Linked DNA regions of Homo sapiens. The protein of the gene in region 2 purifies or fractionates together with the protein of the main gene of each other region. This does not show direct contact. Each region holds a gene or a part of one and is shown on either strand. Other genes may lie near its edges.

What was found.
Region 1: the proteins of GSTZ1 (region 2) and KLHL24 purify together in Homo sapiens (affinity purification with mass spectrometry; one large-scale study listed by BioGRID and IntAct). This does not show direct contact.

Annotation. Positions count from the first base shown.
Region 1 is NC_000003.12:183,682,821-183,685,019, forward strand, and holds the end of KLHL24 (kelch-like protein 24), read left to right. Parts: 3' UTR 1-1,699; downstream 1,700-2,199. UniProt on the Homo sapiens protein: Necessary to maintain the balance between intermediate filament stability and degradation, a process that is essential for skin integrity.
Region 2 is NC_000014.9:77,324,036-77,327,535, forward strand, and holds part of GSTZ1 (maleylacetoacetate isomerase), read left to right. Parts: intron 1-503; exon of another isoform or gene 504-569; coding exon of another isoform or gene 570-587; intron 588-834; coding exon 835-886; intron 887-2,802; coding exon 2,803-2,870; intron 2,871-3,436; coding exon 3,437-3,500.

The DNA.
Region 1 (2,199 bases), on a different chromosome or scaffold from region 2:
TTAAATTGCTGTGAGAACCCATATATGAAAAGAGAGGAGTTGAATTGTGTGTGCCTTTTATGTCTTGAGATTTATATGTGGAAAAGACGACATCTACTTCAAACTGTATTTTTTTCGTTTTTTTTTTTTTTTGGGGAAGGGGGGAGAACGGGGTCTTGCTCTGTCGCCCAGGCTGGAGTGCAGTGGCGCGATCTCAGCTGACTGCAACCTCCACCTCCCGGGTTCAAGGGATTCTGCCTCAGCCTCCCGAGTAGCTGAGACCACAGGTGCGTGCCACCACACCCGGCTAATTTTTTTGTATTTTTAGTAGAGACGGGGTTTAGTAGAGACGGATCACTCCTGACCACGTGATCCGCCCACCTCGGCCTCCCAAAGTGCTGGGATTACAGGCGTGAGCCACCACCCCCGGCCTGTATTTTCAGAGAGGAGAGCTTGGTGTTTTTGTGGTGCCAAGTGGTAAGATAATGTCTCTTTGAGGCTTCCTATGGACTGCCTTTATTTTAGTAAACTCAAGACACCAGTTAACCTCAACAGAGTTTTGGCCTTATTAGAATTTGTTGTGCATCTTATTGAAAGCCAGGTTTACATCACCTCACCCCATTATTCTTTTTAGTTAAATAAATTTACCATGCCAAGTAACCAGAATGGAGCAAATTGGTTGATCTTTAAGGCAGTAGGTTTGACTAGCTAGCTATCATTATTGTCACATCTAATGCTAGGCACCAGAAACCATTTGAGCCAGGAGTGTGAATGAATAATTCCAGAGACACTTTAGACATTTTTTAATGTTTTATATGAACATTTTACATTTGTGTGATTGCCTTAGATATTAAATTTTCCTAGTGCTGATAAAAACAGCAACATTCATAACTTATTTTATATATTGTTCCAAAGAAAAGAATTTGTTTTAATGGTTTCAAAATAACTGCACCTGAATTTGTTTATGTGCCTTAAGTTCTCTAGTGCTATTTCAACTTTTTTTTCAATCTAAATGAAGCTTACCTTAGATAAGGTTCATATTTGTTTCCTATAGAGTAAATAAACTTCCCCTTCTTAAATTGTGTAATAAGCACCAACGTGTGGTTGCTTGGCAGAATGAGAATGTTAAGGGAGATTGTTGGATGTTTGGAGTTTCATTATATTTTTTGTTTTTATTTTTTGATACCTAGGTGCTTTTTAAAATATTCAGACAAATATCTATCTTACATTGATTAAACCCGTGTAAATTCATTTGCAGTATCTACATCGAATGTCAAAAAAGTATACTTATTTTTGTTCCATACTTATGTACAATTTTTTCCCTCTTCAGGCTTTTTCATTTACCTTTTTGAAAAAGCACTTACTCTCCCCTTCCCTATCACCCCTCCCCCAAGGTTTCTTTATTTAAATTTTTATTGAGAGTTGTTGGAGCTCTAAGACAATACAAATTTAGAGTTGAACAAAAGTATAATCTGCTTTACAACTAGTATAGACCTAAGGTCATTTGCTTTCAATTAGAGGCTCCAGAGTCTTCATAGTGGAAAGAATGCTTTGTATTTAATTGTTCTTAGTTAAGTTGTAGCACGTGAATACTTACTTACATGTTTTGTTTAAATATACTTCTTGCATAGTTTAATTTTTTAAAAGTTGTATCTAATAAAATGTCTTTTAACCATTATTACTTGACTATATGGTTGTATTAAATTTTGTTTACGAAAAATTTGTTGTTCTGTTTTATTTTAAGTATATTTAAGGGGTTGTGCAAAAAAGAGATGGGGAAAATACTGGATATATTAATATATGTGTGTATTTACTGGTATGTCCATAAAATAACTGGAAGGATAAATAAGAAACTGAAAATATTAGTGTGTAAGAGGAAAGGAAATGGTGGCTGAAGGACAAGTAAAAATGAAACTTTACTGCATACGTATATGTGTGTAATTATAAATACATATAAAATCAATTTTTTAGTCTGAAACACACGAAAGTATTCCCTATTCAAAAAAAAAAATTTTTTTTTTCTTTTTTTGAGACGGAGTCTCACTCTGTCACCCAGGCTGGAGAGCAGTGGTGCAGTCTTGGCTTACTGCAACCTCTGCCTCCTGGGTTCAAGCGATTCTCGTGCTTCAGCCTCCTGAGTACCTGGGACTACAGGTGCATGCCACCACGCCCGGCTAATTTTTCTTTTTATATTTTTAGTAGAGACAGGGTTTCACCGTG
Region 2 (3,500 bases):
AGCCCGCTCCACCACTCAAAATACTGCATCAAAACCAGGCCACGCTCTGTTGGGGGGACACCAAACCTGGCCCCAGCAGGAGCGTAAGAAACTTCCTGCGAGTTGGAAAAAAATGCCTTTTTTTTTTTTTTTTTTTTGAGACGCAGTCTCGCTCTGGAGTGCAGTGGTGCGATCTCGGCCCACTGTGACCTCCACCTCTCAGGTTCAAGCTATTCTCTTACCTCAACCTCCTGAGTAGCTGAGATTACAGGCACCCACTACCACACCTGGCTGATTTTTTTTTGTATTTTCAGTAGAGACAGGGTTTCACCATGTTGGCCAGGCTGGTCTCAAACTCCTCACCTCAAATGATCCACCCACCTTGGCTCCCGAAGTGCTGGGATTACAGGCGTGAGCCACTGTGCCTGGCCAGAAATGCCCTTTCTGACCAGAGTCAAAGTTCCCCCAATGCCTGGGTAGCCCAGCTTCCCCATTGGCTCCTGAAATCCACCCCTTTAGGTTTCCTTTCCCTGCTCAGAAGCTGTGCCAGAGGGGACATTTCCTGGGAGGCTGAGGGTCACCACGATACCATGACAGAGTCTGGCAAGGTATGGAAGGCACTCTCAGGCTAGCTGCCCCTTTGGGGGCCTCTTGGACCTCAGGAGCTCAAACCAGCATAATTTTGGAGCCAAGGGACCTCATGAGCCTCTCAGAGAGCTTGGAGTCTGCCCTGATTTGCACAGATGCAGGCCTGAGAGAGGAGGCCTGGCAGGACAGGAAGAAATGGTTGACTCCTCCCAAGCTGGAGCCCACCCAGCATGGGTTAACACGCGCCTTCATCCTCTCTCTCCTCAGCCCATCCTCTATTCCTATTTCCGAAGCTCCTGCTCATGGAGAGTTCGAATTGGTAAGAGATGTGCCTCCTCCAGGATGAGTGCTGGAGTGGGGTGGACTGGGGCGGATAAGCCCGGGTGCAAAGCTGGCCTGGGATGGAAGGGTTGCTCTGTCAGAGAGGACCTCACCCCCAGCAACCAGCATCCCCCGGCTCCTAGAACCCCCATCCCTGCATGGCATCTCCACCCCGGAAACACAGGGTGAGGGTGGGAGGAAGGGGGTTGTTTTTTCCCTTGGGACTGACACTTCTCCCAACACTGCTCTCCAAAGCCCCTTGGCAACCATGTTTAAAGCAGGGTCACAAAATCCACATGCCCCTGGTAACTGGCAGGGGAACAGCTGGCCCTTCTCAGTTCTTATTTTATTTGAACTGGCAAAGCAAACAGAACGGGCCAGCATCAGCCTCGGAGGCTTCAGAAAAGCAGAAACAAGGGCCCTGTGGCTAGTCCTTGTTTGACCCTTCCCTCCCTTGGCTTAACACAGCCTTTGGCAAAGGTCATAACCAAAGCAGCCTGTACTGAGGAAAAGCTCTGTGCTGAGTGCTTTTGTGTGCCTGATTCCATTTAAACCTCAGCAACCCTAGGAGGGAGGTACTATTATTACTGTCCCCATTGTATAGAGGAGGAAGCTGAGGCACAAAAAACAGGCAACATTCAGTAACTTGCCCAAGATCTTTCAGTTACTAAGAGGCAGAACTGGAATTTGAACCAGGTAGTCTGGCTCCAGAGGCCCATTAAGTTACTTGCCCAGGGCCACACAGTTAGCAAATGACTGTGATGAAATTTGAACCCAAGAAGCTTGCCTCCAGAGTGTGGAGGCAAAGCCATCCTCCGTGACCCCTCCTCCATCCCATAGTCACTTGGTATTTGCTGGGATCAGTAAGCAAGAGCACTGGGTGCCAGGAGAAACTTTCCTCCAAGAAGATGAACCCATCCCTGGGCGCCAGTACCTCTGCCCTGGCTGAGCCAGAAGCCGGAGCAATATAGGTGCTGTCTGTACGGCCTGTGTGCTTTGGCCTTCCCTCCTCCAGGTGTCTCCTCCAGCCCCAAACACTGTCACTCCCCAGACTGGAGCTGACCAACACTAGGAGGAGCCTGGTATTGCCCAGGCTCTCCACACCATGACATGTCTGGTCCTCCTCCCCTCATTCCTTTGCCCTTCCCTGAGATTGGCCATCACCATACTTGAATGCCCAAGTGTGTGTAATACACACATGCATGCACACGCACGCAGTCTTCTCCACTAGTGTTGACCCACCCAAGTTTTTTTTACCCTCAGCTTGCCAGGGGAAATTATCAAAAGGGATGGAGAGGAAATCTGGTGACTGGAGTCACGGCAAATGCTCTGAGGCCACCAAAGAGCCTGATGCCTGTCTAGAATCTCTAGTAAACAGCCCTGAGAACAGAGAGAATAGATTGGAAGAGATTCTTCTCCAACAGAACAAGAGTGCCATCTGTCTGTGTGTGCTGTGTGTGGCCACCTGAGCTCCTTCCCTTGGCCCTTAGTTGCCTTCTTGAGGGAGTAATTGCATGTCTTCAACCAAGACACTGGTCACCACTGTTTAAGGCCCTGGGGGGGCAGAGTTAAACACAACACAGCCTTGCTGAACTCCAGGAGCCCACAGAGTGCCAGGGCATACACCTTTATCACCATCCAGGGGGCATGAGGGCCCCATTGGGGGGGTCCAGATCTTGAGGTCTCTAAGAGTTCAGGGGTGAGTGAGGCAGAGCATCGTGCATCTGGGGTAGGGAGCACGTGGTGACAAGGAAAGCTGAGAGAAGGGGATAGTGCCACGGTGAGCCTTGACCACCCAGAAGTGTTAGAGAAGCCTCCCCCTCTTTGGCCTTAATGTCACCTTAGAAGGGCTCTTTCCTTTAAGAGTACGGCGAGAGGCTGTTCTTTGACTCCGCTATGTGCGGTCTCTCCTAGCTCTGGCCTTGAAAGGCATCGACTACGAGACGGTGCCCATCAATCTCATAAAGGATGGGGGCCAACAGGTAAGAAGGCTGTGCCCAGACCACAATGTGGGAATTGGAGGCCTTGAACAGGCACCAGGCAGGGGAAAAAGGGGAGGCTCTGCCCCAGAGAAGTGAACCTGTGTCTTGTGGACTATCACTGCAGGAGGCTGCTGGCTCTCCCTTGTGGGACAAGGTGGCAAGGTGTGCAGTAGCAGGAGGCCTGGGAAGGGCCCAGGTCCAGACTGTGTACCCTAGCCTGGGCTCTCCAGTGCCTGACCCTGGGAGGGTGGGTGGCTAGTGGGTCCCCACCCCATACTGGGCCCTCTGGATGGCTGACTAGGGTAGGAGCTGCCTTGGTGGCCACGGTGTGAGATGCAGGGAAAGCCCATAGCCAGGCTGTTAGGATGAAGCCTATGGCTCAGCAGCAGCTGGGCTTTGGGAGACTGCATGGATCCCCCAGGGATTACCCTGGGCCTAGGATTTAGGGCCTTCCCAGGGAAGGGAGATGGGGGTGGGTGGCAGGCCTGGGGTTCTCCTGCTTGCTTGGCTTTCCTCTGGCCAACTCAGGCCAGGCCACCCAGCCCACCAGGGCCTTGTCTCCACAGTTTTCTAAGGACTTCCAGGCACTGAATCCTATGAAGCAGGTGCCAACCCTGAAGATTGATGGAA